2 separate regions of the Homo sapiens genome follow, and region 2 is linked to region 1. Evidence: fine-mapped expression QTL. A gene starts in region 1. The other region holds a variant in brackets. All regions are shown on one strand. Distances are from middle to middle.

Evidence for each region.
Region 2: its variant is fine-mapped to the expression of ZNF696 in caudate (GTEx, PIP 0.98). The same link has a PIP of 0.9 or more in nucleus accumbens.

The regions. Positions count from the first base shown.
Region 1 is chr8:143,283,245-143,295,186 of GRCh38, forward strand. It overlaps ZNF696 (zinc finger protein 696), which reads left to right and starts at 8,173. Exons shown (of 3, transcript NM_030895.3): 1 at 8,173-8,523; 2 at 9,728-9,821. The coding sequence starts at 9,758. RefSeq lists an enhancer at 7,662-8,237 and a silencer at 7,708-8,427.
Region 2 is chr8:143,323,200-143,335,141 of GRCh38, forward strand. TOP1MT (DNA topoisomerase I mitochondrial) reads right to left here and starts at 11,681. Exons shown (of 14, transcript NM_052963.3): 1 at 11,541-11,681; 2 at 8,025-8,140; 3 at 6,151-6,272; 4 at 3,023-3,145; 5 at 2,147-2,334; 6 at 1,286-1,430; 7 at 800-943. The coding sequence starts at 11,662. RefSeq lists enhancers at 1-521, 8,696-9,229, 10,905-11,589, 11,129-11,178 and a silencer at 11,379-11,838. The variant A/G (reference allele first, on the strand shown) is at 5,429.

The DNA.
Region 1 (11,942 bases):
CCCAACTACCTGAGAGGCCCACTGGAAAACGCAGATTCCCAGGCCCCACCCCAAGGGATTCAGCAGGCCTCAGGGGAAGCCAGGAAATCTGGATTTAGTTCAAATACCCAAATACATTGATCATGGGCCTGGTTCGGGAATCTGTTCTCCTCCAAGCCCTCAAAGCAGGAGCTGCTGGCCTGCCCTCTGCAAGGCCGCTGCCCAGGCTCTCCTCAGACACCACCTGGACGGGCAGCTCGAGCCGTGGGACGCCCCTGCTTGGGCCAGAATCGGGTCCTGCACCTCAGACCTGCAGGGCCCAGCTCGGCCTCTGGGCCTCTGGCAGCCGCGCCCTGCCTGGCACCCCCTGCCTCCGTGACGCCCCATCTCTCTCTCTACAACGTAGCCCCGTGCTAGTTCACAGCCTCGCGACCCCTCCCAGAGAGGCCCCACAGCCATGGCCCCCAGCCGCGCGAGCAACGCCAGGCACTCGCCCGGCCCTGGCCCGCCACCCTTGGGTTCGCCTGGGGTCCCCCGCCAGTCTTCCGAACGGGTCCTCCGAGCTGCCTAGAGCGCCCGGAAATGCCCTCGGCATGGGGCGGGGCTTGCGGGGGCGGGGCCGCGCTGCCGACTCGGGCTGGGCTTGGCTCACTGGGCCTAGGCAGTGCCTCAAGCGTGGGATACCCTGGTCAAGTCTTTAAAGATCACAGGTTTTAAACAGATTTCTTTTTACCCAATAGCATTTATTCATACTCTTTAAAGAAATTTGGGAAGTGTAGGAAAAATAGAAGAGACAGAAATTTTCTCCTCAGCACTACGGGCTAAGTATCCCAAATCCAAACACCCCCAATTCAAAACTTTTGAGCAGCTGACATGCCGCACAAAAGGAAATACTCACTGGAACACTTCAGATTTCGGATGTGGGAATTTGGGAGGCTCACCTGCTAACTATGGTACAAATATTCCCCAAAAAAAGCCAAAGCTTTTTTTTTTGAGACAGAGTCTCGCTCTGTCGCCCAGGCTGGAGTGCAGTGGCACGATCTTGACTCACTGCAAGCTCCGCCTCCCGGGTTCACGCCATTCTACTGCCTCAGCCTCCAGAGTAGCTGGGACTACAGGCGCCCGCCACCGCGCCCAGCTAATTTTTTTTTTTTTTTTTTAGTAGACACGGGTCTTCACCGTGTTAGCCAGGATGGTCTCGATCCCCTGACCTCGTGATCCGCCCGCCTCGGCCTCCCAAAGTGCTGGGATTACAGGCGTGAGCCACTGTTCCCGGCCGCCAAAACACTTCTGGTCCCAAGCATTTTGGATAAGGGATACTCAGGCTGTACAAGGAATGTCTGTGCACGTTTTTAGCAGCTCTTGCTGTTACACTAAATAGACTTCATGGTTAGCTTGTCCCTAAAATAACCTTCACGTCCTGAGGTCTGAGATCTGCTGGGAGCAGTGCTGGAAGCCCTATTCCCCCACAGCGAGAGGGGCGCCAGCATCCCTCATTTACGGGAGGAAATCGAGACTTGGTGAGGACGTCCCACAGCCCGGATTTGAACCCAGGCTTGGATCCGAGGCCCACGTGCTTGCTCCACAATGCCCCCTGCTGGCCACCCTCCCTGCCCTCAAAGATTGCTGTAACCAGAAGTGGACGAGCATTTCGGGGAGGAATGCTCCCCGCACAAGCCGAGGGGTCTCCCAGACTCCACTTTGGTGTCCCTGGAGTGCCCATGCCAGCGACCTTTTGGTGGGTCTTTTACCCCAGATGGAACTGTCGCCAAGTGTGTCCCCATCGTGGGGAGAGGAAGTGGATCAGCAGCGTCAGGCCTTGCGGAGGTGCACTCGCACCCTCCTGCGCTACGGTCTCAGAGGCAGGAGGACGCTTTCAGGGAGCCAGCCGCTGTGGCACCTGCAGCAGTTTCAGCAGTTGGGCAGCTCCAGCCGCCCTGCCACACCCTCACTCCTCATCCACTCCAAAATTCAACGCAGCATGCCGAGCCCCAGGTACGTTGAGGCGGAAAGCTATGGTCCCCGCCCGGAGGAGCCATGCAGTTCCCCGCAGCGTGGGTGGAGGAGGAGGGACAGGTGTCCCAGTCCTTGAGTCTCAGGTGGGCAAAATCATGCCACTACTGTGGCACTCGTGTGCCTGACTCCAGGCAGGGCCTTCCCGTCCTGCCGCCCTGCACTCTGTGCATGGCCATTCTGTGAGGCTGCTGCTCCTCAAGCAGCCCGTGGGATGGGAAATCCCCTCGTTTACACGGTAGACCATCCAGCCCAGCGCCTGCTGCAGAGCCTGGGTGAACAGCGTCTGGGTGACGAGAGTAACAGGCAGGATGCAAGTGGGAGCAGGCGGCTTCCCAGGACCTCGGTCCATGTGCCCATCCAGCAGGACCCTGAGCCCAGCTCCCATCTGGGGAGAGGGCTCCACGGGGGCAGGCAAGAGGGGCTGCATGCTGAGCTCCTGAAAGCTCTAGAATGCCCTCTGTAGCCATTACACTCGACGGAGGGCATGGCGAATAGCAAGGGCTTGGGGCATGTGGTTGGGTTTTAGGTTTTTCCTTGCAGGACTGTGCTGAGCCTGCACCACTGGGAAGCCCTTGGCCTCTGCCCTTTCTCTGAAACGCTCCTCTTCTGCCTGGATGCCTTGGTCATTCTTTCCTCATCCATAACCTTGAATAGCTTCACCAAGATCCGTGCTGGTGTCAATATTTTATATTAAGTTTTCCTGGGATATGGTGTTCTTGATTTTTTTGAATTAGGGTATAATTTACATAGCGAAAATGCCCAAATTTTAAGCACTCGGCTTGACTGTTTACATGTTTACACTCTTGCTAATCCCCCCAGGTCACAGCATGGAACTTTCCAGAGCTTCTCCTCCCTTTCCCTTCCCCTCCCCCAGCTGATGGGTATTCTAGCTTCTGGAGGGCCCTGTCTGCCATCGGGCCTCTCAGGAATGGATTCGTCTGCCCGCCCTCCTGGCACTCCTTTTGCTCCACACGATGTGCTAGAGGTCACTCCGGGTGGTTCTGTGTGTCTGTTGGCCCCGTCCGCGCCGGCGTGTGGTTTCCCATTCTGAGTGTTTGCTCTGACCCCATTTTTATTGCTGGGGTTGTGTGCTTCTCAAGCCCTTTTCCAATCCCAAACCTGTGGTGTCTTTTCTGAGTTAGAACACCCTAGTGGCTACAAGGACCCCAGAGTAGGAAGCCCAGCATCCGTGCGACAAGGCTGGGTTCCCTGAGAGCCAAGCGGCCTCCCCACCTCAGCGCCCTCCCCAAACTCCTGCCCACACTTCAGGACCCGCTGGCAGTGCTGCTTGAGTCACTGCTCCCTGCTCTCTGCTTCTAATGAGGCCTCCACGCGCTGCTTTCTGGCACCTGGCAGGCGGTGCCTGCTGTGCCTGTGTTTCTCCCTTCTCTTTCGCGAGCTCCCAGGGCAGCCCCCGTGGTGCTCTGTCCACCTTCGGGGGTGTCCCTGGTGCCCAGCGCAGCAGGAGTGAATGTCCTGAGCCTGAGCCAGTTCTCCTTGACTGCACAGCACCAAGGTGCCAGTCAGTGCTGGTCAGGCTGGCCGCTAGGTCTTGGTGCACCCGCCACTTCCTACCACCCTTGCATTTTCTCCTCTTAGGGCCACTGGTGTGTCTCACCTGGAACCTGCTCACCAAAAACCCGTCTGTTACTTCACAGATCCTGCCACGCGGGAGCCCGGCACAGCTTGGCTGAGGTCTCTGCCAGGGTCTCCTGGAGCTGCCATTAAGCTGTCCTGGTCTCCGAACTCCTGTGGAGCTTGAGGTCCTTCCCTGACCATTCGGGCCGTGGCAGGATTTCCATCCTGCGGCTGTGGGGGTCAGGCCCTCGGCTTCCAGGGGTAACTCAGAGGTCTCTGCCTCCCCTGCTCCTTCTGCCAGGAGACTGGGAGTCCTTCCTTTCTGTGTCACCTGTTTCCTGGCTGCGTGTCCACTTGCTTCAGTTGACCCACGGCCTCTTCTTTGAACAACAGTCCTCTTTCTCTGAGGTCTTTTTTTGTTTGTTTGTTTTTGTTTTGTTTGGTTTGATTGGTTTGTTTTGAGACAGAGTCTTGAAGGGGTGGGTTGCCCCTCCACACCTGTGGGTGTTTCTCGTTAGGTGGAACGAGAGACTTGGAAAAGAAAAAGACACAAAGTATAGAGAAAGTAATAAGGGGACCCAGGGAACCAGCGTTCAGCATATGGAGGATCCTGCCAGCCTCTGAGTTCCCTTAGTATTTATTGATCATTCGTGGGTGTTTCTCCGAGAGGGGGATGTGTCAGGGTCACAAGACAATAGTGGGGAGAGGGTCAGCAGACAAACACGTGAACAAAGGTCTTTGCATCATAGACAAGGTAAAGAATCAAGTGCTGTGCTTTTAGATATGCATACACATAAACATCTCAATGCTTTACAAAGCAGTATTGCTGCCCGCATGTCCCACCTCCAGCCCTAAGGCGGTTTTTCCCTATCTCAGTAGATGGAACGTACAATCGGGTTTTATACCGAGACATTCCATTGCCCAGGGACGGGCAGGAGACAGATGCCTTCCTCTTGTCTCAACTGCAAGAGGCATTCCTTCCTCTTTTACTAATCCTCCTCAGCACAGACCCTTTACGGGTGTCAGGCTGGGGGACGGTCAGGTCTTTCCCTTCCCACGAGGCCATATTTCAGACTGTCACATGGGGAGAAACCCTGGACAATACCTGGTTTTCCTAGGCAGAGGACCCGGCGGCCTTCCGCAGTATTTGTGTCCCTGGGTACTTGAGGTTAGGGAGTGGTGATGACTCTTAAGGAGCATGCTGCCTTCAAGCATCTGTTTAACAAAGCACATCCTGCACAGCCCTTAATCCATTTCACCCTGAGTTGACACAGCACATGTTTCAGAGAGCACGGGGTTGGGGGTAAGGTCATAGATTAACAGAATCTCAAGGCAGAAGAATTTTTCTTAGTACAGAACAAAATGGTGTCTCCTATGTCTACTTCTTTCTACACAGACACAGTAACAATCTGATCTCTCTTGCTTTTCCCCACAGGTCTCACTCTGTCACCCAAGCTGGAGTGCAATGGCGTGATCTCAGCTCACTGCAATCTCCACCTCCCGGGCTCAAGTGATTCTCCTGCCTCAGCCTCCCGAGTACCTGGGATTACAGGCGAACACCACCACTCCCGGCTAATTTTTGTAGTTTTAGTAGAGATGGAATTTCACCGTGTTGGCCAGGCTGGTCTCAAACCCCTGACCTCAGGTGATCCACCCGCCTCGGCCTCCCAACGTGCTGGGATGACAGGAGTGAGCCACTGCGCCAGGCCCAGCTGTCTTTGTTTTTCAGGGGTGCCTTTGGTAATTTCTTCATCGTACTTTTTTTTTTCAGGGTAGCAGGTAAGAGACTCAGTGGATAGGCTCATGGAAACAGTCCTTGAAGGGGTGGTATTCTAAGACTCAGCTACTTTTTTTTTTTTTTTTTTTTTTTTTTTTTTTTTGAGACGGAGTCTCACTGTGGAGTGCAGTGGCGAAATCTTACTGCAACCTCCGCCTCCTGGATTCAAGCAATTCTCCTGCCCCAGCCTCCCGAGTAGCTGGGACTAAGGCAAGCACCAACATGCCTGGCTAATTTTTTGTAATTTTTTTTTTGGTGGAGATGGGGTTTCACTATGTTGGCCAGGCTGGTCTCGAACTCCTGACCTCGAGTGATCCTCCTGTCTTGGCCTCCCAGAGTGCTGGGATTACAGGCGTGAGCCACCTCTCCGGCCTGGACTCGGCTACTTTTGGATCAAGAAATCCAGAATTTTCTAGACTGTGAACTTGCCCTTTATCATGGACATTTACCACCTGCAACTGCCCAGAGGTTCTCTGTCTCACCCTACACCGTGAGGACCCCCTTAGCAAACAGAATTCCAGGGCGCGGGCTCTTCGCAGGATCTGAGCTATTCGCGGGCGTCCTGAGTTGCTTGGATTCACTCCCCCACCCCCATGTCCCTGGAGTCCTGCCTTGTGTTTTCGATTCTGTTTCTCAGGGGCCCCAGCGTGTGGCCTCCCATTGTGGGAGAGCAGGAGGGAAGCGGTGAGGGGTGATTTCGGAGGAGGCAGAGCCCCGGGTGTCCGTGGGAAGCTCCAAAGCCGGGCCGCGGGACGGCTACCCTGGGCTGTGACGCAGTCCAGGATCTTCGCCAAGGCACCTGCTGGAGGCCCCTCCTGGGTCCCACGACCCCGACTGCGCCTGCCGGCTGCCAGCGAGGAGGCGGGGCCAAGGCGAGGGCGGGGCCGAGGCAGGAGGGGCGGGGTCGGCCTGATGGGCGGGGCTTCCGTGTGGGCGGGGCTGCTGGCCCTGCGGTCTGAGCCAGCGGGGAGAGGCCCGGGCGGAGGAGGCTGCGGACTCCTAGAGGTTCAGTGCCGGAAGTTGGGCCTGGAAAGGGGGCACCGCCTTCCCGGTTCTGGTGGCGGGGAGTGAGGGGACGGGCGAAAGCGGCACAGGGAACAGCATGACACGGGCCTGAGGCAGGGCACATTTGGAAAGGGGCGAGGAGAGGGCAGTGGCTTCTGGCACGGCAGCAGTGGGCATACAGAGGCAGTCGGGACCCGTCTGGAAGAGCCTCCGCCCGGGGTAAGGAGCCGGGACTGTGTCTAGGAGGCAGTGGGGAGCTCCGGAGAGCGAAGCGCCTCCTGCGCAGACTCGCGTGCTTGGAGTACCGGAGCCTGCAGGGCAAGAGAGGGTCTTCAGAAGACCCACGACGTTCCACTGGGATGCAGAGGGAAACGGTTACTTGTACTTCTACATCATCTCTTTTAGATGTGTGTGTGTGTGGTGTGTGTTGTTGTTGTTGTTTTTGTTTTGCGACAGAATCTCTGTCACCCAGGCTGGAGTGCAGTGCCAATCTCGGCTCACTGCAGCCTCCGCCTCCCGAGCTCAAGTGGTCCCCCCGCCTCAGCCTCCCGAGTAGCTGGTACCACAGGCGCCGGCCACCACGCCCGGCTAATTTTTAAAAAAAATTTTTAGTCGACACGGTTCTAACTATGTTGCTCAGGCTGGTCTGAAACTCCTGGACTCAAACAATCCTCCTGCCTTGGCCTCCCAAAGTGCTGGGATTACATTCATGAGCCTCTCGCCCACCCAGTCTAAGTGTTTTAATTTTTATCTTTTACAACAGCTTCTAATTTGTTACAAATAAACGTGCAGCATGTGGTGGGAGTGTTCAGGTGTTTACTGGTGCAGTGCGCAATGAACGCGGTTCCAGGCACGAGATGTGGAGGCCCAGAGGCAGATGCCGGGTGGCGGCGGCGCGGGACTGTCGGAGGCGCGGGCAGGGACCTGGGCTCCCAAGGCTGTGGCCCTCCCGCCCCAGTCCAGGGTCCAGTTCCAGGGGCGCGTCTGGCCCTCTGTTGCTGTCTTCTTAGGGTTCTCTCATGGGAATCGGTTCTTCAGCCTTTCTTTTCTCCCCAGAGAGGGTCTGTCTACTCGTTGTAAGAGGGAACAAGTCCACATTGCAGCTGTACACTTTGCACCCATGATGAAAAGCGTCACTTTTGCAGCATTCCAGCTGGAGATGCGTGACCTTCGGTCTGCGGCAGGCGGAAGGGCGAGAGACTTGGACAGGAGGTGCATCTTGCCCGGGGAAGGCTGAACGAATGAGAGCTCGGTCCCTGGTGAGAAAGAGCCCAGAGCCCGCGAGAGGCGGGCAGCAAGGGCTTCTCTGCAGCGGAGACGCGAGGGCGGCGTCCTGCAGGGAGGCGGGGGGCAGCGCCTGGGGCGCTCCAAGCTCTCGGCCCCAAGGAAGCCCACGCTCGGGACCCGCGTGCTGCCACAGCCCCGGGGGCCTGGAGGGTCCCGTGAGCCGAGCGGGACCCGGGACAAGCGCGGGACGCCGCGGGGAACGGACGGGAACGCGCGTGGCCGCCCCACAGCGGGCCTTCGACACCTCCTGACACGTCCTGCGGGTGCCCGGTCCTCAGTTGGCTCGAGCCGGATCCCGGCGCGCCAACGGCTCGACCTTGCCCCCCACGAGGCAGGGCTTCCTGCCCGGCAGGAAGGACTCGGCCGGCGCCTGCGGGCAACCGATGAGCTGAAGGCGCCGCGGCTGGGCCGTCCCGCTCTCCCGCCGCCGAGCGCGCTGTCCTCCCGCTGCCCAGAGCGTCGCCGGAAGTGCCGAGGGGGCGGGCCAGGGGTGGAGACTGGCGTTTCCGGCGCGCGACGGGGCGGGGACCGTAGCGGGTGCAGTCCAGCTGCTCTGGACGCTGAGGCCCCGGCTTCTCTTGCTGGGGTGTCGATTCGGGAGGGCTGAGGGCGCGGCCGAGAGAACGGGGCGGTCACCGCCGCCGTGGCCCGCGCGTCCCGCGCTCTCCTTGCAGTGCAGGCCCCAGCCGCTCTCGGGCGCGGCGTGGGGGAGGCGGCCCTGCAGGTGCGTACCCGGGGTCCGACACGTGCGGGGCTTCCTGCGAGCTGAGTCCCCGCTGCGCGTCTTCAGGCCTTTGTAAGTTGTCAAATTTCCCACCGGCCCAGCTCATCGAGCTTCTTCCCAGCTGTGAACAGGAGGGCCTGTTCCCTAATTCTTGCCGGTAAGGTACTTGCAAAAATCTGCTTCCAGACTAAAAAATTGCACTTTAAATTACCTTTTTGTAAAAGCGGCGGGGTCTCGCTATGTTTCCCAGGCTGGCCTCCTACTCCTGGGCTCAAGCGATCCTCCCGCTCAGCCTCCCTGGCAGGCGGGATTACAGGCGGCTTAAATTAAATTTACTAATTAATCACTTTATTTACTTATTTTTTTAAGACAGGGTCTCACTCCAACGCCCAGCTGGAGTGCAGTGGCGAAATCTCGGTTCACCCCAGCCTAGACCTCCTGGGCTCAGGCAGTCCTCCCACCTCAGCCTCCCTAGTAGCTGGGACTACAGACGCCCACCATCACACCTGGCTAATTTTTTGATTTTTTGTAGAGACGGGGTCTCACTATGTTGCCCAGGCTGGTCAGGAACTCTTGTAATCAGTCAGTCCTCCATCCTGAGCCTTTTGAAGTGCTAGGATTACAACTGTGAGCCACAGCACCCAGCCAAATTACATTTCTTAATTGCACTTGAGGTGAGACCTAAAAAAATGTATTGCCTACTGGTTTTTCTTCTTTGTGAGTTACCTATTCATGATCTTTGCCAATTTTCCTTCCTTTCTCATTAATATATAGAGGTCTTTATCAGATAGGGATGAATCTTTGCATTGCACGTATTCCTCCCTTTTTGGTTTTTTTTTTTTACATTAAATTTTTTTATGTAGTTGAATTTGTCAGACATCTGATGTCAGGCTTAGAAAAATCATTCCTCATTCCAAAACTTTACCATTCAAATAAGTTGTTCTTTTCTTCTGGTTTAACATTTTTATATTCAAATCCTTATAACTACCAAGAAAATTTTAAAACCCATGGGAATTTCTCTAGACATTTGAAGACTGCTGGAGGGCGCGGGCTTCCTCAGCATGGAGCTAGGAAGCTGTGGCCACGCCCACCTGTGCTCTGCGTCAGCCCTGGGTGGAGGGGGACCCGCAGAGCCTGGACCAGAGTTCCTGGGCATCCCACAGAACAGAACACCCGCTTCTGGGAGTGTCTGTTGAGCCAGGACCTTGATTGCTAGTGACAGGAGTGGGCCCAGCTGGGTGATGCAGCTCCCACAGGGCCTGTTCTGACAGTTTCCTCTGAAGGCATTCTGACCTCACTGCCCCTGGCCCCTGTACCTAGCCCTGGCTGTGATTTATTTTCCTTTTCTTTTACCTAAGCAGAAATTGTTCCAACTGCTGGTGTTCTGCAAGATGGAGCCAGGAGGAGAGCCCACAGGTGCTAAAGAGAGCAGTACCCTGATGGAGTCCCTTGCAGGTGAGGGGACATGTCCACAGTCGGGCCCAGAGTTCCAGGGCAGGAATTGAACAGGAATACAGGAAAAACACCATGTCTCAGTCACTGACGCAGAGCATATACTGTGTCCTTGGGCGCAGGGTGAGGGAGGGAGGTAAACGCAGGCCCATCAGATCTCCTGGGCATCTGTTTGGTGACTGTCTTTGCCAGTGAACTGAGAGCTTTTGGTTAGAAAGTCTGGCAGCCCCAGGCTCTGCCTCTGGGAAGGTCTCTCTCTCAGTGCTTCTCCACCTTGGCACCGTGGCTGTTTTGGAATGGACGAGTCTTTGTTGAGGGGCCATCCTGTGTGTTGTAGGACGTTCGGCAGCACCCTCGCCTCTGCCCACTTGGTGTCAGTAGGGCCCCCTCCCAGTTGTGACAATCCAAAACATCTCCACACATTGTCAAATGTGCCCTCAGGACAAAATCGCCCCCATGAGAACACTGCTTTATGTTTTGGGGCCACCCTGAGAGTGTGTCACAGCAACAGCCCGGGAGATGGCGTGGGCAGTGCAGGCCCTGCTGTGAGGTCTGGGATTGCCTCCATCGGAAAGGCGTCCTTGGGGCCTGCAGGCTGGATCCAGTAGAGCTCCACCACGTATGTGTCCCCTTCTCACCATAGTCTTGGTTCTTTTTCCTCATAAGCAATACCTTTGAGTCAGTTCTTGAACTTCCAAGTCTGCAAACCACAAGACCAGGGCTGGGCCTCTGCCAAGGGGCTTCTGTTCTGCAGGCCGCCCTGAGCGCCTCCCGCCCCCTGGCTGCTCAGTGTCAGGGGTCTGCAAGGGCAGAGAGAGGTGGGGACTGTCGATAGCAGCCTGCTCTCATCTGCCCTGGAACATCCCTGCCCCACCCCCACCTCCACAGGAGCTTCCGTCTTATCTGCGCCCTCCACATTCTTGAGAGGTGCAGCTGGGACTCAGCCGCTTCTCCTCTGCTGCCACAGCGGACTGCCTGCAGACTGAGAAGTCCTCCTCAGTTGCTGTGCTGGCCTCGTTGGCCCCCCTCCTCCTGCTGCCCCTCCTGGCTGAGTCCTCCTGCCTCCTATGCAGGCCAAGCTCAGTTGCCAGCTTTCTCATGTCCCAGGGTTTCACCCCTACCCCTTAAGCCTTTTTTCTAAATGGCCACATGGTCTGTCCCTGTGAGCCAGTGGAACCAAATCTAACCAGTGGCTTGACTGCCAGACAAGGGCCATTGATAACGCAGCCTGGATGGGGTTGCTCAGCCTGACCAGCGCCGCCGCCGCCCAGCCCACATGGGACGTGGGTTGCTGCTTCCAGCTCTTGTTCCGGATTTCTTTTCTTTTCTTTTTTTTTTTTTTAAGACAAAGTCTTGCTCTGTCGCCAGGCTGGAGTGCAGTGGCGCCAGCTCACTGCAATCTCCACCTCCTGGATTCAAGTGATTCTTCTGCCTCAGCCTCTCAAGTAGCTGGGACTACAGGTGTGCACCACCACACCCAGCTAATTTTTGTATTTTTATTAGAGATAGGGTTTCACCTAATCTTGATCTCTTGACCTCGTGAACTGCCCACCTCAGCCTCCCAAAGTGCTGGGATTACAGGCGTGAGCCACCGCGACTGGCCTCTTGGTCCGGATTTCTGTCTGAGTGAGGACGCTCCTGTTTGCACATAACAGAAGCCCTTAGAGTTTGGTGTTTGGGGGCAGTTGTTAAGGAGTCTGCGTTGTCTCAGGGAGTCCAAGGTAAAAGGAATGAGCTGGGGCCATGGCTGGGTGTGGTGGCTCACACCTGTAATCCCAGCACTTTAGGAGGCTCAGGTGGGAGGAGGGTTGAGCCCAGGAGTTCAAGACCAGCCTGGGCAACACATTGACACACTGTCTCTACAAAAAATTTTTAAAATAGCCTGGTGTGGTGGTGCTCACCTGGAGGTGCGCCACCTACTTGGGAGGCGGAGGGAGGATCACTTGAGCCCTGAGGCTGCAGTGAGCCATGATGGTACCACTGCACTCCAGCCTGGGTGATAGAGCAAGACCCTGGCTCACAAGAAAGGAAGGAAGGACAGACAGAAGGCAGAGCTGGGCCGTGGGCTCTGTTGGGTGCCACTGTCCCCGGGCCTCCTGCTACATCTGCCTCGCTCCCGTCCTG
Region 2 (11,942 bases), 40 kb after region 1:
ACACAGGCACGCCACACAGGCACGCCACACACAGGCACGCCACACACACAGGCACGCCACACACATGCACGCCACACACGCACGCCACACACGCACGCCACACACATGCTCACCACACGCACGCCACACACATGCACGCCACACACATGCACGCCACACCCACAGGCACGCCACACAGATGCATGCCACACACACAGGCACGCCACACACGCACGCCACACACACAGGCACGCCACACACGCACGCCACACGCACGCCACACACATGCTCACCACACACGCACGCCACACACATGCACGCCACACAGGCACGCCACACACACATGCACGCCACACACATGCTCACCACACACGCACGCCACACACATGCACGCCACACACACAGGCACGCCACACACACACGCACGCCACACACACAGGCACGCCACACACGCACGCCACACGCACGCCACACACATGCTCACCACACACGCACGCCACACACATGCACGCCACACACACAGGCACACCACACACATGCACGCCACACACACATGCACGCCACACACATGCACGCCCCACACAGACATGCCACACACAGGCACACCACACGCACAAGTGCACACACACCACACAATGCACATGCACACCCTACACACATGTTCACACCCACACACGTGTGCACATGCACACACCCCCCCCATCAGAATGAGGTTCCACCCCACACACAGGCCCACGTCGCCACACTGCACCATCCAACTGGGAGTCCTCGCCAGGAGAACCAGGATGAAGAGCCGCCAGGAAGCGAGAAGGCCGCATACCTTATCGATGAAATACAGGGCCACCGCCCGCTGTCTCGTCTTCATTTCCCGAGACTTCCAGTCAGCCCGGTACTGGGAGCGGATCTCGTCCACAAATCCCCGCAGGCGTCGAGCTGTTTCAAACTTCTGCCAAGCTGTCTCCCCCTAAACGAAGAAAATAACAGGAAAGAAAACATTCACATTCCTGTTAAATAACGGAGGAGGCTGTCAACTCTCCCTCCCCCAAACCTCGTGCTTCTCCACTCAGTGGTGCCGTGGTCAGGGGCTGGGGCAGCAAATCTAGCTGGGTGATGCCGGCAGTGAGCACCCATGCCCACTCCTGGCTTTGGGGCTTGTGCCTGCTGGCACAGCATGACCTCAGCACGGGCTGGCCGACTCCCAGCCCATCTCAGAAGCCTCTGCCGGTGCCCGGCTTACACACCTCCCTGCCGGCGTCCTCAGGGGGACCTCCTGGGGAGGAAACACCCTGCCAAGCCCTGCGCTCACCTTCAGCTTCGAGCAAGGGTTCAGCATGATGTACTTGATGGAGTTCTGAACGCTCTCGGTCCAAGCTGCCAGCCACGTGACGGTGTTATCGGAGCGCACCTCCTTCCACTGGTGCCCCGCCGGCGGCTCGGGGATCTTCGAGTCCCTGCAGCAGAACAACGACCCAAACATAACTTGGAGACCTTATTCTCTGGAATGCAAGCAAAAGGAGCTGCTCTGGTCAACCGTCCCACGTGGTGGCTATGGTGGTGGCATGGCTCCTGACCGAGTCTGGCATCAGAGGTGGCCTGCCTGGCAGCTCAGACAAAAGCAGCCACTCAATCTACCCTCTGCACACACAGGAAGGCCACAGTGCACCAGGAGGCTGGGCGGCCACCCAAGCAAGGCACCGCTCTGCACAGACCTCTCAGCACCAACTGGGACGACGAGTGCCCTGCCCCACACAGCCTGGCCACTGGGGGTCCTGCAGGCAGGGTCCCTACTCCACCCTGTGGTCACACAGTACAACATGTGGCCCAGCAGTCCCCTCTCCACCACTTGGAATGTCCCTCCAATAAGTTCAAAACACCTAATGCTACTGGGCCATCCAGATGGTGTGGGATATGAAAACCACATGGAGGTGTCCTTGGCGGGAGAAAGTCTCAGCCATAGCAAGGCGAGGACTTCCGACCCCGTGGGAAGCACCCTGGGAAGGCCGCCCTTGCCCGGCCACGCCTACAGGCTGAGCTCCACAGGAATGGTGTGGGGGTCACCAACCACATGTTTCTCGGTGTGCCTCCCTCTCCCAGGAGGTGAAGAAAAGCCAGCCTCACCCGGGTGGCGGGGGTCCAGTGCCCGCCTGCTGCCCGCCCGGCCACGCACCTGCTGCAGTTGATAACCACATCCTCTGGCGTGATCCTTCTCTTCAGCATCCCCATCTTGGGATGGTCGCCACGGCCACGGAACAAGCCAGGCGGCTCAATCTTGAAGTTGCCTATTTTTTCTTGGTGACCATCTAAAATACAGTAGCCGAACTCTTGCTGAAGTTTTTCTGCCTCTTCTTTTAGCTTCTGAGTTAATAAAACAGTCAGTGGACATTAGCAGTGAAGAGAAGAGAACAGGCCTCAGTCCGTTGTTGCTAACCCGGGACCACCCTGCTCTGTCTGGCTAACTCAGCTGGACCCTCAAAGCCCTTCACAATCCATGGAGGTTGCAGGGGCAGGGGACAGTGCAGGTGGGCTTGCAGGGGGCACCGAGAGCCATGGCCTAACCACCCCATGGCCTGGACTCCCCGGCCCCTGCACAGACTTCGGCTGTTTTAGGCCTAAGCAGTAAAGCCAGGTGGAGGGAGCGTGGCTGCCCGCCATGGAGGAGGAGGGCTAAGGGAATCCCTGAGAAGGCCACATGGAGATCACAGCACGGCAGGTTCCTGTTAGATGTAGGGAGACGCATGGCACAGAACAGCAAGAAGCCGACTGGCCTGCACAAGCCCCGCCCTCAGCCCACGGCCCGTCTGGGAACCCACCCTTGATCAATGATGGTAAATTATCCATTTCAAACCGGGTTTACTCTCAAATGTGCTCTGGGGAAGCGGAACGACACTTAAGCACATGCAGGGGCGCTAAGGCTGACGAGAAAAGAGCAGCTTTGTGAGAAGGGGCTTCTCTAAGGCCACAGGCCTTTCTCAGTCTTTGGGCCAGGCCGGCCTCTCGTTCCCAGGGGCCACTTCAGGTCACACAACGCTCGAGGCAGCCCAACCTGCTTCTCCTCCCTGCTCAGGACTTTCCGGGCTGCGGCCTTGTCCACAAAGTATCTGTGGATCTCCGTGAAGTCACACTTGTCCAGGCTCTTGATGACTTCCCTCTCTTCCACCGCCATTTCCTGCAAAAACCACAGACACGCGCTCTCACCATGTCTGAAGGACAGACATGCAGAGCGCTCTCGCCATGTCTGACGGACAGAAACGCGCTCTCGCCATGTCCGACGGAGGCGTGTGTGCAATAGGCAGAACCTGCGCACGGTCCTGCGGCCCCGTAAATAGAGCCTCTCCCCGCAGACCCCACAGATAGAGCTGGTTCTGTTATTGCAGGCATGGAGTTGGGTGGGGCAGCGGAGGGCACAGTTCTCCAAAAGCAACTTCACAACAAGTCAGTAGTAAAACTGGCTAAAACCTTTGCACCCAATAATTCCACTTTGAGATCCATCCTAAATAAACTCTCCAGTATGAAAACCCGGATGACGACCGCACTAAGGGCAACTGCAGAAACGTCATGACCGGACAGAGCAGGATACATGGTCGGGAGCTCATCTGGTGAACGTGACGGGATTCGCGAGGGCAAAGTCTCAGTCCATACGTGCTGCTGCCACAAAATACCGGGGACTGGTCAGTTGTAAATCATAGTCACAGCTCTGGGGGCTGGAAGGCTGGGATCAGGGTCCCAGCATTTGACGTCTATGGAGGGCCCAGTCCCTGCTTCTGAGAGGATGCCCTGAAGGCTGTCCTCACACAGTGGAGGGGACAGAAGGACAGAAGGGGCCCAGCTAATTCCACCCAGCCCTGCCCTAAGGCCCTAAATTAATCCTAAGGGCTGCAGCAAGGTGGAGTCCTCACAGCCCAATCAGCTCCTAAAGGCCCTCCCTCTGTCCTGTGGTGCTGGGGATTCAGTTTCAAGGTGAATTTTGGAAAGCACAGCAGAAAACAGTTTGACGATGATCTACCCGTGTGGAGACTAAGCGGGATAAAATGCTAAGTGGGGAAAACATTACAGGCACACTGATCACACTCACACGAAAACTAGTGCCCAGGAAAAGCCAGGACGCGGGAACAGGAGACACTGACCTGAGGGAGAGCCGCAGATCACAGGCAACTGTTTCTCCTTTCGTTTCCTACACAACAAAAACTCTGCACAGCCCATGGACAAAAGCCCAGGCTTGCGGGCACCAGCTCACGGTCCCAGTCCAGGCTCGGCCACTTAGGCCTGTGAGACCTCAGGAGCTGCTGTCAAACGTGTCTCGCTGTGGGATGGGGATGATCCGCCTCTTCCGAGGAGCTCAGGTACGACACCATCTGTGCCAGGATGGAGCCCTGCTCGGCCACAACCACGGGCTCAGGGTCCGTCCCTGTGTCTCCCGGGGCCGCCGGATGTGCCACCCACTCCTGTTCTGCTGCTTTGTGACACTGCCTCCCTTCCTAGCTCTGCTAGTGACTGGAAGAAGTGCTGACCAGAGGGAGAATGAGGATGCCGGGCAGCTGGTGCCACCTCACAAAGCTGTCGTGAAAGGCAGAGGGGTGGCATCAGGCCAAAGAAGAGGGTCCAGAAGCGGAGCCTGCACAGGGGACAAGGAAGCACAGGCTCCAGCAGCTGGCTCGGGGCAGTCAGACACCCACATGCAACACACGAGCCTCGGCCTCTACCCCACACTATAACCAAAATTAACTCAGAGTTCCACCTAAACCAAGCTGACCTCAATGGAAACCTAAAACCAAAACTTCTAGGAAAAACATAGGAGGAAATCTCTGTGCTGCCGAATTCAGCAGATTTCTTAGACAAAACAACAAAAGCAAACCTGTGACAAAACATGAAACGTGGGACCTCATCAGTATTCCAAACTCCTGACCTTCCAAAGACATTGTTAAGAGAACGCAAATAGAAACTACAAACACCATGAAAGATTTTTGCAAATCATATTTCTGATAATGGACTTAAAACAGGACACAAAAGTACTCACCATAAAAGACAGATTGATAAACGGCATAACTAAGTTACAGTTTTCTGTTTGGAGACCTCACTGAGAAGTGAAAAGGCAAAGTCTGGGAGATGACATTCACAGCATGTGCGTCTGGCAAAGAACCTGCACCCAGGATGCGTTTTTAAAACTCCGATAAATGAGCGAGGAATACGCAAGCAACTCAGTTTTTTAAATAGACAAAAGTTCACGAAAGAAAATACTGAAATGACACGTCAGTACACCAAAAGATGCTTAATATCACTTGTCATTAGGGAAACGCAAACCACACCCACGGCGAGGTGTCATTTTGTGCCCACTAGAAAGGTGCCTCGCACCCGCGGCAGGCGTGTGGACAGTTCAGCCTGGTGTTGCTAGTAAGCTGGACACACGTGACCCAGCAATTTCACCCCAAGTCCTGTCAGAGGCAACTCACAC[A/G]TATGTGCCCTCACCCACGTGGGAATGTTCATGGCAGCTTTACACATGCAAAGGCCTAAAACAGGAATTAATCAAACACCCACGAATAGGGAAATGGACTAGCATGAGTCACGGAACAGAGGAAACGCGACCCGGCCAGAGCCAGGAAGATGCTGCGGGACAAGCAGTCAGGGGCGAGCCTCGCAGGTGTGGGGCAGACAGAAACCCCGGAGGGCACAGAATCCGCGGCACACACATAAAATCAGTCAGGCCATGGGCGAAGGGCAGTCACCTTGAAAATGAGCAAGGAAAAAGCCTTGAGGCAGCACCCTCCCCTCCAAAGAGCTTCTCGCCAAGCATGTCTTCCTGGGGGCTGGGAAATGGCATGCGGCCTCCTCTACTCTCCTTCTTATATGCCAGACCCCTGTCCTTTCAGCGGTCCATGGAGTAAGGACCACAAATCGGCCTCCACATCCACAGCCTGCCTGGGAAGGGAAAGGTCTGAGGTGCACTAGGCTGGACACACTGGCACCGCCTATGGTCCCAGCTACTCAGGAGGCCGAGACAGGAGGATGGCTTGAGCCCAGGAGCTCGAAGCTGCAAAGAGCCATGACGGCACCTGTGAGTGGTCACACAGGGGCCACCGAGAACTTGCGAGGGGCGTTCAGAGGCAGCACTGCAGAACCGCAGACGCCTAGCCAGCCAGGTCCAGGACAGCTGTGGCGGCCGCCCAGGGTACCTACCTTTCGCCAGTCATTGAAGAAGTTCTTCCGGAAAACCTCCTTTGTTGTGTATTCATGATCTAACATCCTCCCATAAAAAGTGGCGACCTCCTCCGCTGCCACGCTCAATCTCACAGGCCTTCCTGCAGGCATCGGAAGACACATCGTATGAGAGAGCGGCCAGAGGCTCGGCCTCCAGCTGACATGACCTCATTGCTTTAAACTACGCTTTCGTGCGTACTATGCCAAGAGCAAGAAGCTAGGCCTTCTTCTGTAAGTTCAGAAGCATGTTCTGCATGACACACGACAATCAACCTGCGTGGAGGTGGCGACCACAGTGATCTGGGAGCGGGTCGTGAGAAAGCTGCAGAAGATTTCAGGCGCTACTGCTTTCTCCTCCTTTACCACTTAACGTTGCTACTACATTTATATTACATGAAAATGGAACATGTACAATTTTAAAACACACCAATTTCCACAAAATTTCACAAGTAAAATAAAAGTTAAGGCTTCAAAGCAGAAAACTGAATAACTAGGTGTACCCTTTTACAACTCTGCGGCCTCTGTCCCACCATTCCCTGCATTTTATTCTAAGATCAGTGTGGTTTAGAGATGGGGGGTGAGCTGGGAGCAGGCGAGCAGAGTGAGAGGCTCGTGGTGGGAACGAGGGTGTTCACCAGGAATTCTTTCAACTGCACGTCTGAAAAGCTTTCATAAGAAAATTTTAGAGAAATAAATGCATAATCATTTGGTAAGAAGGAGGAAGGCATTTCTGATAAACAGCAGCAATCCTTCCCCAAACTAGCTTCTCAGGACAGAGGACGAGAGGCCCAGAGACCAGCAGCACAGGCCCGAGGGGCTCAGCTCCCACTGCCCCTCTGTGGAGGCTCGGCCCCACTGGGCCCCACGCGACACCACCACTCCCCGGACTGTCCACCATGGCCCTGCATAAGCAGTCCTCGCCTGCCATGTCCCTCCTGGCCAGGGAGGTCCTGCAGGGCTGCTGTGGGGCAGGCGAGGCAGCCGCTACACCAGGCCAGGGGCACAGCGCGAGACGCTCAGTAAGGTCCCATGGCCTCCCGTGGGCAGCCCCCACAGACACAGCTAGAACCTCTGTCCCTGTGGAAGCTCCAGTACCGCTTTGGAGAAACAGGCTTTGAACAAAACATTGCATCAAAGGAGCTCAGCAAACTCAGGTGTGCATGTGACTCGGCAGGGGGCCCACGGGAGGGCTGGTGGGAGGGGCACAGCATGGCGTGGGGGCCTGCCCTGGGGGAGAAGAGGTTTGCTTTTCTTAGAAGGATGCCTTCTAGCAGAGATGAAGAAAATAGGCTGAAGCAGCTAAAATCAGCAGCACAAGAGCCAAGCCAAAGCTCCTGGGCCCTGGGGTAGAGAGGAGGGCTCAAGGGCAGGAGGGGTGTGTGGGCCCTGCTGCCCCAGAGCCCCCGGGTCCTGCCTCTGAGGGTGGCTCAGCGCTCATGTCAACCACGGGCTCCGCTTCTTGCTGAGAATCACAAGCTGGGGTCAAGTGACCGTTCTGTGATCCATGTGTGTACACGCAGTGTACGTACTGTGTATACTCAGAACACACAGGGAACACAGTGGTGCGGGGGGAGGGAGGGGGGGTCCGCTTTGCCCAGAGGGTCCTGGACACAACAGGCACAGCCAGTGCAGGCTCAGCAGGAAAGGCAGGGACGGGAGCCCCCGAACTGCCACCCTCTGAGCATGGGTCAGTTGGTCAGCAGCCCCCACGCATCACCTGCAAGAAGAGGGCACAGAGCGCTCATAGCCAGAAGCCTGCAGGGGGGCTGAGGGAGCGAGCCAGATGCCCACTGGGAGCCCACGCCCAGGGAACCAAGCGCAGGCTGGGGAGGAGCCGCTCCCTGCATCCTTACCTTCATAGAAGAAACGCACTCCGTCGGGAAGGGGCTCGTATGGGGGTGCGAAGTACGGGCCCTTGTGCTCCAGCTGTCTCCACTTCACCCCGTCTTCGTGCTTCTCCTTCTCCCACCTAAAGACGGAGACAGGACGTGTCACTCTCCTGGGCCAGGCCCTGCATGAGCCTCTTCCCCGCTCCCACAGTGGCTCCTCCCTGTGGCTCCTAGCAGGTGAGCAGTGTGGCCTCCACCTCACGGGGGAGGAAAACAAGGCCTGCAGAGGGAGGCAACCCTACCTGACCTCAGACCCCATGCCCGTGTACCCGCCCATGCCCCCCACCTGCAGAGGCCCGTGTGCTGCTGAGTCACGGATCCCACCAAGCCCAGCTAAGCGGGAAAGGGCAAGCCCAGCTAAGTGGGAAAGGCAACGTGCCTCTCCCAGGCTCTAGGGCCTCTCCCCAGATGGGTCCCTTCAGAGCCGGTCTAGAATCTTCGGGAACCTCTCCATGGGACCATTTCATTTGCTAAATAAAGGACCTGGCTGCTTATGAGAGAGCCCTGCCTCCGAGGAGCTGGGTGGAAGGGGGTCCAGCAGTGCAGCCAGTGGAGAGGCACCACAGCAGGGCGCAGGACCGCCGCCCACAGAGGATCGGGCAGGGTGGAAGGGTGGAAGAGGCAGGGCGGGGTGGAGGAGGCGGGGCAGGGAGGGGAGGCCCTGAAGCCAGAAGCCTCAGGGGTTTTCAGGGAAGGGCTCCTTTTGTAAGGCACTAACACAGTGAGGCTCCACAGGGCTCCCTGCCAAGGTCCCCCTCCCCAGGGCGCCCCCTTCTGGCAAGCCCAGCTCTGGAGATTGGGGGGGTGTTGGAGGGGGTGGGGGGACACAGCCAGCGTGGCGGCTACAGCCCATCCTAACTCTCCAGGCCAGTCATCATCTATCCATTGAGGCAAGCCCAAGCCTGCCCTGAACCAGCACTGCGCTGGGTCCTGCGGATGCAGATCACCAAAACCCATACGAAGGGCTCAACTGAACCTAGATTCTGAGATGGGCCTGGGAGAAGAGGAGCGAGATGGGGCGTGGCTGGCAGGCAGTGGGCAGGCTCGGTCAGCAGGGCTGCGGGAAGAGCAAGTCCAGCACCCAGGATGGCCAGTGCAAAGGCCTCAGTGGGAGAGGCTTTGGCGAGAGGGTGGGAGCACCATCAGGATGGGGGAGAGTGAGATGGGCACACCTTCTGAGCCTCCCCCAGACGCACAAGGACAGAAGGTTCCAGATCACACCCCCACCTGCCAGAGCCAGGAGACCTGCACGTGACCCCAGCCAGGTAGTGCTGTTGGGGGCCTGGTGGGCCTGGTCGGCTGGGATGAGTGTCCTCAGAGCAACAGGAAGTCTCTGAAGGGTCTGAGAGGGGAAAGCATGTGCAACAGACATTTCTGAAAGGGCCTTTCTGGCTGTTTCTGCAGAGGAGGGAATGGGCAAGGTTAGAAGACGTAGAGACGGAGCTGATAAAGTAGGGAGAAGTTAACGGGCTCAAGAACCTTCCAGGGTGGAGCCGGGCGTGGTGGCTCACGCCTGTGATCCCAGCACTTTGGGAGGCTGAGGCAGGCTCAGGAGCTCAAGGCCAGCCTGGCCAACATGGCGAAAGTACAAAAAAACTAGCTGGCAGATGCTGCAGGCAGCTGGAGTCTGGAGGGAGACTCGGGGAGAGGGGGGTTCTGCTGACTCTGCAGAGCTTTTCCACGTCAGGTGAGACCAGCCTCACCTTTCTTACAGGTTTTAGGAGTTCAAGAGAGCCCACCAGCCCTGATACAGCATGTCTAGGGTGGGGCTGGTAGGAGGCTGCACCACTAAGTGCCCTGAAGGATGCAAACCTAGACAACGCCTTCTTAGAGAATAAGGGAAGATGGATCATGTCGGGTGTGAGAAAATGGGAAACCACGTGTATCTCGGAACTAACTGATAGGAGCCAGGCGCGGTGACTCACGCCTGTAATACCAGCACTTTGGGAGGCCGAGGCGGGCGGATCACTTGAGGCCAGGAGTTCGAGACCCGCCTGGCCAACATGGCAAAACCCCCGTCTCTACTAAAAATACAAAAATTAGCTAGGCGTGGTGGCGGGTGCCTGTAATCCCAGCTACTCAAGGAGGCTGAAGCAGGAGAATCACTTGAACCCAGGAGGCAGAGGTTGCAGTGAGTTGAAATTGCACCACTGCACTCCAGCCTGGGTGACAGGGCAAGATTTTGTCTCAAATAATAATAATAAAAATAAAAATAAAGAACTGACAGTGACCCTGACTGCCAAGTCCTTCACAAAGCCTCTAGGGTAGTCACATCACCAGTCTCATTTCACAGATGAAGACACTGAGGTGAAACAACCTGCCGGCCAGCGGCCAGGCAGGGCTGCACCACTGGGTGTGCGCTCAAGCCCAACTGAGGGCTGCACATTGTAGTGACATTCTTTCACCCCTGCAGAGACCAGGGCACCAAGCACCACCATCAGACACAAGCTGGCTTTCAAAGCCAGAGACCTTGCTCCAAACCCACCTGTCCACCTGGGCGACTGCAGCTCAGCAGCACTTTTTGGAAAGCACCTACCTGCCTGTGCACCCTCGGAGAGATGTGCCTCAATGCAGGGCCCACAGCCAGCCCCAGCTCCAAGCGCAGGCCAGAACTCCCTCCTCCCAAGACACCCTGCCCCATCTGGGGCTCTCTTTGGGTCCCAAGCTCCTGCAGGCAGACAGGACATTTCTGCAGCATGGCCTTAGGCAGCTGTGCAGGCCCTCAGCTGTGAATGGGTATGCTGATAGCGCACCACCAGGTCACAGAGACATGCCACGCTGGAAGCACTAAGTGAATGATGATAAACCGCGAGACCTGGCGGGAACTCCTGCAGGATCTCCCACGCACCAGTGAGGCTGTCAACTCTCCAGCTCTTCGGAAACTCCAGCATTTCATGCGCAGAGACCCATCCCCATGCGGCTACCCCAGGCCCAGTATGCGCCGGCAGGGCTTCTCACATGTCCTCCAGGAAAGCGCCTGGGACCACCAACGGCCACCAGGGCCACTGGATCCATGCGGCTTGTGCCTGGTGATGTAGATATGACAGTGAGCGCCCGCCGCCATGCAGAATCGGTCCTGGAGACAACCCGGGAACCGACTCCAGGAAAGAGCGGGTCTCAGAAGACCATGCACAGCAACATAAGCTTTTTATAAAGTACCTAACCAAACCCTACAGTGTTGAGGCCCAGGCACAGCTACACAAATGATGAAACCACAAGCGGAAAAAAAGAGGGGAGATTTCCCCAAATAGGGTTGGTGGGGTGGTGCCTGGGGAAGCAAGGGCGACGTCATGGGGGGGCCTGTACACCCCGGGCAGGAGGCGGGCCGGTCACACCGCGGCACGCATGCTCTCCTGGCCCGACTTTTGGGAAAACCGGAAGCAGGGCAAGGCCGTCCCACGAGGCCTGCCACTCCCCTTTCTGGACCTACCCAAGCCCGGTGCTCAGGGCCCTCGCCGCCTGCTCACTGGGACACCTTACCTGGCTCCACTGCCCTTCTGCGTCCTGCGCGAGCCCGGGACACCCCGGGAGGCCGGGCGGCGGGGGACCTCCCCGAGCAGCGTCAGAGCCGCCCGGAGCCGCAGCAGCCGCACCACGCGCATCTGCCAGCCTCCGGGAAAGAGCGACAAGCTGGGCCCCGCCCCAGCGGCCAGCCCCGCCCCGCCCCCAGCGGCCAGCCCCGCCCCCGAGCGCGGCCTCCGCCCCCAGCGGCGCTCATCCCAAGGCTGGGCGGTCTAAGCCTGCACGGGGCTGCGGCAGCAGGACCACTGACTGTCCTGCCGGCCTCCCCCTGGTTTCCCTGCCTTCGTGGTCCAGCGCCCCTTCACGCTGGGCGGGGACCCAGATCCAAACCCAGTCCCACTGACCTCTGCAGCACAGGGC